Linked DNA regions of Homo sapiens. The protein of the gene in region 1 purifies or fractionates together with the protein of each later gene. This does not show direct contact. Each region holds a gene or a part of one and is shown in the gene's direction. Other genes may lie near its edges.

Region 1 (3,649 bases):
CCGACAAACTGGACTTTCTCACTTCTAGGTTTCCAGGAAATAATCTGATGGGTCCTGCTTGGGGCAGGTGTCTACCCTATTGGGTGTTAAGTCACATGGTCCTAAGTGGGGGCCCAGGCTCACCCTTTCAGCAGGACTGGTCCACAGGGAAGAGCCAGTAGGCTGGACAGCAGCCAGGATGCAGTCAGGGGGGCCTGACAGGGTCAGTGGTGTCAGAACAACTGGCCAGGTCAGGACATGCTAACTTAGGAGTTGTTTAGAGTGTGACTGCACATTGCAGCTCTTTTTATGGAGAAGGAGAGTGCTGAAACGGAGGCTGCTACCGTGCATTAGCCCTGTGCGTTTCTGCTAACTAGGGGAAGATCCTAGCTACTTCTCACTGTGGTCTCCTGAGGCCATTGGCAGCTGGCCAAGCACCCCTGGTGAAGACTTATTAGCGTGGCTTTGAATTTTCATTTGTGGGTCATTGCGAGCAATTACACATTTATATTAACAATTTAATTTGGCTGTATGGTATTTTACTGGGCTAAGCCCTGTGAAAAATGGGAATCATCTATAGGGATCTGACATTTTAATTTGTGCAGTTGCTTAAAAACAAAAATCCATAACAGCAATGGATTTTGCTTTGCTTTGCAAAGTTTTTCATTTAATGATGTTTTAATGGGTCAAAGCCCATCCAAGCCAACAGCTCATGTTTCAGGGTCTGATTCTCTGAGGAGCTATGAATGGAGGCGTTCTCTTTCATTTCTTCTCTGTTCCCGCTTGCTCCCTCTCTCCTCCCTCACCTCCTCTAACCTTCCTCCTCTGCAGCGTTCTCACACTTTCCCGTCTGGGTAGTTTGCCAGTTCATTAACTGCTTTTCTTTTCTCCCTGGCATGTCTCATTAGCTACTGGTAGAGATGGCTGTTTGAGGGAAATAGTCTTAGGCAAAGGGTCCAGAAAGCCCAGAGTCCCCTTTGGGAGTGAATGTGTGGAGAGGGAGGTGTTAGGCAGAAAAGCCAAACTCTGCCTCCCTGCTTTCAAGTCTGCAGTAAGATCAGTCTCAGTGGTGAAACTCAGCCAGCAGAGGGGGTGAGTCTCAGCTGGGAGCTAGGCGGCCAGTGGGGAGGTGAGTTTCAGTCCCATTCGTGAAGGGTGGTGGCAGGACCACAGTCCAAACGTCAAGCAGGTCCCCTGTGAGTCAGCCATCTGAGTTGGCCCAAGTGAGACAGGACCAACTTTGAGGCCCCCAAAGGGTAGTTCCCGTGCCCAGTGGACTTGTTCTTCCTTACTTTGCCTCCCTTCTGTTATGGGTTCTCAAAATATGGCAGTCTTTTTTTTAATTTCTTTCTTTTTGAGACAGGGTCTCACTCTGTTTCCCAGGCTGGAGTGCAGTGGTGCTCACAGCAACCTCTGCCTCCTGGGTTCAAGCAATTCTCATGCCTCAGCCACCCGAGTAGCTAGGATCACAGGTGTATGCTACCACACCTGGCTAATTTTTGTATTTTTGGTAGAGACAAGGTTTTGCCATGTTGCCCAGGCTGGTCTCGAACTCCTGAGCTCAAGTGATCCACCCGCCTGGGCCTCCCAACGTGCTGGGATTACCGCTTGAGCCACCATGCCCAGCCTGTCATTTGTCCTTTTAAAAGCTCGTTCTTATTGCAGATTTAAACCTACATTTAGAAGCCCCATTCTGCCTTAAGAATATAGCCGTGGGGGCCAGGCACGGTGGCTCATGCCTGTGATCCTGGCACTTTGGGAGGCCGAGGCAGGTGGATCATGAGGTCAGGAGTTCAAGTCAGCCTGACCAACATGGTGAAACCCCATCTCTACTAAAATTACAAAAATTAGCTGGGCGTGGTGGCGTGCACCTGTAATCCCAGCTACTCAGGAGGCTGAGACAGGAGAATTGCTTGAACCCGGGAGGTGGAGGTTGCAGTGAACCAAGATTGCACCACTGCACTCCAGCCTGGGCAACAGAGCGAGACTCCATGTCAAAAAAAAAAAAAAAATATATATATATATATATATATATATATATATGTGTGTACAGATATATATATATACATACATATATATATATAGAGAGAGAGAGAGAGAGCCATGGGGGGCTGGGCGCGGTGGCTCATGCTTCTAATCCGAGCACTTTGGGAGGCCAAGGCAGGTGGATCACCTGAGGTCAGGAGTTCAAGACCAGCCTGGCCAACATGGTGAAACCAAATCTTTACTAAAAATACAAAAATTAGCTGGGCGTGGTAGCGTGTGCCTGTAATCCCAGCTTCTAGGGAGGCTGAGGCAGGAGAATTGCTTGAACATGAGAAGCAGAGGTTGCAGTGAGCCAAGATCGTGCCACTGCACTCCAGCCTTGGTGACAGTGAGACGCCATCTCAAAAAAAAAAAAAAAGAATATAGCCATGAGGATAGTTATTTATCTCAAGTAATGTGTTGCCAATATAATGTGAGCTTTTGTGTAGGCAGTTTAGTGTGTTGACTATGATGTCTCTTGTCTTAGTGGTCCTTGGGTTAATAATTTTAAAGAGCATCATCAGAGGGTGCTACAGACAACTTTCCCATCACCCCCCTGGGGCAGTGATGGAAGGGGATAAAAACAAGCTGATGGAGAGAAAAGGAGGGTGTTGGATGTGCTAGGTGGTTTCCATTTGCCTTTCTAGGTCCACCCTTCACCTGTTCCATTTGCTTTTTGCTCTGGGAGGCTGACATGTATGGACTACATGTGCATAGTATGGGTTGCATTAATGACTCTTTGTCTTCTGGCTTTGGTTGGGTTCAGCCATTGGGACATTGTGATAAGCCATTCCTGCATCACTGGAAAGAAATACCCAAGGCTGGGTAATTTATAAGAAAAGAGGTTTAATTGGCTCACAGTTCTGCAGGCTGTACAGGAAGCATTGCATGCTGTCGTCAGCTTCTGGTGAGGACCTCAGGAGATTTATAGTCATGGTGGAAGGGAAAAGGGGAGCAGACATCTCACATGGCAAGAGCAGGAGCAAGAGAGAGGGTGGGAGGTGCCACACACTTTTAAACAAGCAGATCTGTGAACTCATTCATCACCGAGGGGATGGCGCTAAGCCCTCCCACCAGGCCCCACCTCCAACACTGGGGATTACATTTCAACATGAGATTTGGCATGGACACAGATCCAAACCCTATCAGGCATCAGATGTTCAAAGCGAGGGAAGAGAGTGAGGTGAAGGTATGTATTCCTCTGGCTTCCTGTCTGTAGGGTCACCATGGATTGTGGCCCTAAACTAAAGGGCCCGGTTCCTGTCAGGTAACCCCTAGCTGCCCTCTCTGTCTCTGTCATTCAAGCTCAGGTGTGATAGCAGCATTCCCCACCCAGCCACAGAGGTACTATCCCTTGTGTTTTGCTGTGTTCTGTACACACCTTTGCACACACCCACTTTGTTATTACTTTAAAAAAACCATCAAATTTACCATTGTAACTGTTTTGAACTGTATAATAGTGTTAGCTATATTCACACTGTTGTGCAATATATCTCTAGAATTTTTCCATCTTGCAAAATTGAAACTTTGTGCCCACTGAACAACTTCTCTGCATTTTTCCTTCTTCCTTGTCCGCTGATAACAACATTCCACTTTCTGTTTCTATGAGTTTAACTACTTTAGATACCTCATATAATTCGTGGAA
Region 2 (3,649 bases), on another chromosome or scaffold:
ACAGGGCATGCTTGTGCAGCCAGGAATGAACCTTCCCCACCCAGGTAAGCTTTGTGTCTCTGCTTATATGCTTCCAGTACCTGAGGATATATGTTGGGAGTGCCACAAAACCCATCCTCCTGAGCTTTGTGCTGCTAGCCTGGGAGTCTGGCCATCCTGGCTGCTTGGGCAACAAGTTCCTCTTGTGTCCATCCTGAGGACTTCCATTCTGAGCCTGATTATACTGAGCAGTCCAGCCGGGCCATCCTGTGAAAATGATGTTACTTTATTTTTCAGTTTTTTTCTTCTCCTTATCCAGGTTTACATCCCCACCAGACACCAGCTCCTCTGCCCAATCCAGGCCTCTATCCCCCACCAGTGTCCATGTCTCCAGGACAGCCACCACCTCAGCAGTTGCTTGCTCCTACTTACTTTTCTGCTCCAGGCGTCATGAACTTTGGTAATCCCAGTTACCCTTATGCTCCAGGGGCACTGCCTCCCCCACCACCGCCTCATCTGTATCCTAATACACAGGTGAGATGGCTAATGATCATGTTTTTCTAGATACACATTCTTTAATTCAGACAGGAATGTGGTATGGGGAGAATGCTAAAGGAATTTGAGAGAACATTTTCAGTGCCACTGATTTGTATGTGACACCAAGACGCCTCTTAGTGGTCAGGAGCTGGAAATGCAGCTTATGTAATGCCCATCATCTTTATTCTTTTCAGTTTTTTTCTCCGTTGCCCAGGCTTGGAGTGCAGTGGCGTGATCTCGGTTCACTGTAACCTCCACCTCTTGGGTTCAAGCGATTCTTCTGCCTCAGCCTCCCGAGTAGCTGGGATTACAGTGCCTGCCACCATGCCCGGCTAGTTTTTGTATTTCTAGTAGAGATGGCGTTTCACCATGTTGGCCAAGCTGGTCTCAAACTCCTGACCTCAACCGATCCACCTGCCTCGGCCTCCGAAAGTGCTGGGATTACAGGCATAAGCCACCGCACCCAGCGTTCAGTTTCTTTAATGGTGTTTCTTTCCTGTGTTGTGGTACATCATAGGTGGCAATACCTGGTTTTTACTCTATTGCATAAAGAAGCTGTATTCTACTCCTTATCACCCCTACCTCTGTCCTGCTTAACTTCCACCACGTTGACATAATCAAGTATCTGTAGTGTCGCTACTGAACTCAGCCTTTTCCATTTGTCAGCTGATGGTAGGAATTAGAGAAAGCTGGGCAGTACTTTGAAGAAATAAAAACCAGAGCATAATAATGAAGAATTAAGGCAAAAATGAATAGTCACTTTATTTTGAAGGGTGGGCAGATTAGATATTTTTAAAATTATAAATTCCCCAATTCTCTTATGGCTGAATAATATTTCCTGTTCATCATAGGTTGGATGAATTCATTCCTAACTTTTTCTTCTCCTGGCTTGTGGGGTCCCAGGCCCCATCACAGGTATATGGAGGAGTGACCTACTATAACCCCGCCCAGCAGCAGGTGCAGCCAAAGCCCTCCCCACCCCGGAGGACTCCCCAGCCAGTCACCATCAAGCCCCCTCCACCTGAGGTATGAGAGTTCCTTCCTATACTTAATGCACATGCTCCGTCAGTGGGCTTTCCTTCTCCCCAGAGGATTTCCCTCATTTTCTGGGTGTGTTTCTCTGGAAAACAGTCTTTTTGTTATGACCTGATAACAAATTCCAACTTTGTTATTTCAGGTTGTAAGCAGGGGTTCCAGTTAATACAAGTTTCTGAATATTTTAAATCTTAACATCATATAAAAGTAAGTGCACAACTTACTGTGAATATTGTTAAAACTAATGCTCACACTTGCTTAATAAACAAAAATCACTTAATTAATGCTTTTTTTTTTTTTTTTTTTTTTTTTTTTTTTGAGACGGCGTCTCAGTCTGTTATCCAGGCTGGAGTGCAGTGGTGCAATCTCGGCTCACTGCAACCTCCATCTCCTGAGTTCAAGCGATTCTCTTGCCTCAGCCTCCTAAGTAGCTAGGATTACAGGCACGCACCACCACACCTGGCTAATTTTTGTATTTTTAGTGGGAATGGGGTTTCACCATATTGGCCAGGCTGGTCTTGAACTCCTGACCTCAGGTGATCCACCTGCCTTGGCCTCCCAAAGTGTTGGGATTACAGGTGTGAGCCACCCCACCCAGCCTCTGATTAATGCTTTAAGTTATAATAATCATGGGATATCTCAGGAGGCTTAAAGGAGTCCTGAAATTTGCCAGTTTGTTTGTTTGGCAAGTGTATTGGGCAGGGTTGAAGTAGAAACGATTGTTAACATGACAGTTTTCAATTGGGAAGCTACAAGGAAAAAATACAGGAAGGCAGTCAAGGAAAAGGGAAATCTAAATTTGAGATGTTATAGCAGAAAAAACCAGTTCTAAAGATCATAGAGGAGAAGGACTGGGGGTTTTGTTGCTTTTGTTTAAGGACATTACTTAAAACACATTATTTAGAAGTGTGGCTTTTTGAAAACAGCTTGTGAATGCCCAGAAGGCCCACTAACACTTTGGTGGTTCTTCCCTTTTTCCAACCCCTGTCAGAGCAGCAGAGGTGAGAACTCAGAAGAGAAATACAGCTGGCTATCTACTACCAGAAGGGCTTCAAAGATATAGGGTGTGGCTCCTACCAGCAAACAGCTGAAAGAGGAGGACCCCTGCCTTCCTCTGAGGACAGGCTCTAGAGAGAGGGAGAAACAAGTGGACCTCGTCCCATCTTCACTCTTCACTTGAGTTGGCTGTGTTCGGGGGAGCAGAGAGAGCCAGACAGCCCCAAGCTTCTGAGTCTAGATACAGAAGCCCATGTCTTCTGCTGTTCTTCACTTCTGGGAAATTGAAGTGTCTTCTGTTCCCAAGGAAGCTCCTTCCTGTTTGTTTTGTTTTCTAAGATGTTCATTTTTAAAGCCTGGCTTCTTATCCTTAATATTATTTTAATTTTTTCTCTTTGTTTCTGTTTCTTGCTCTCTCTCCCTGCCTTTAAATGAAACAAGTCTAGTCTTCTGGTTTTCTAGCCCCTCTGGATTCCCTTTTGACTCTTCCGTGCATCCCAGATAATGGAGAATGTATCAGCCAGCCTTCCCCACCAAGTCTAAAAAGACCTGGCCTTTCACTTTTAGTTGGCATTTGTTATCCTCTTGTATACTTGTATTCCCTTAACTCTAACCCTGTGGAAGCATGGCTGTCTGCACAGAGGGTCCCATTGTGCAGAAAAGCTCAGAGTAGGTGGGTAGGAGCCCTTCTCTTTGACTTAGGTTTTTAGGAGTCTGAGCATCCATCAATACCTGTACTATGATGGGCTTCTGTTCTCTGCTGAGGGCCAATACCCTACTGTGGGGAGAGATGGCACACCAGATGCTTTTGTGAGAAAGGGATGGTGGAGTGAGAGCCTTTGCCTTTAGGGGTGTGTATTCACATAGTCCTCAGGGCTCAGTCTTTTGAGGTAAGTGGAATTAGAGGGCCTTGCTTCTCTTCTTTCCATTCTTCTTGCTACACCCCTTTTCCAGTTGCTGTGGACCAATGCATCTCTTTAAAGGCAAATATTATCCAGCAAGCAGTCTACCCTGTCCTTTGCAATTGCTCTTCTCCACGTCTTTCCTGCTACAAGTGTTTTAGATGTTACTACCTTATTTTCCCCGAATTCTATTTTTGTCC

What was found.
Region 2: the proteins of FKBP9 (region 1) and CASC3 purify together in Homo sapiens (co-immunoprecipitation; 2 studies listed by BioGRID and IntAct, with this or other methods). This does not show direct contact.

The regions. Positions count from the first base shown.
Region 1 is NC_000007.14:32,963,823-32,967,471, forward strand, and holds part of FKBP9 (peptidyl-prolyl cis-trans isomerase FKBP9 isoform 1 precursor), read left to right. Parts: intron 1-3,649. UniProt on the Homo sapiens protein: PPIases accelerate the folding of proteins during protein synthesis.
Region 2 is NC_000017.11:40,167,905-40,171,553, forward strand, and holds part of CASC3 (protein CASC3), read left to right. Parts: coding exon 1-44; intron 45-298; coding exon 299-513; intron 514-1,419; coding exon 1,420-1,542; intron 1,543-1,693; coding exon 1,694-1,717; 3' UTR 1,718-1,758; intron 1,759-2,542; 3' UTR 2,543-3,649. UniProt on the Homo sapiens protein: Required for pre-mRNA splicing as component of the spliceosome. Core component of the splicing-dependent multiprotein exon junction complex (EJC) deposited at splice junctions on mRNAs.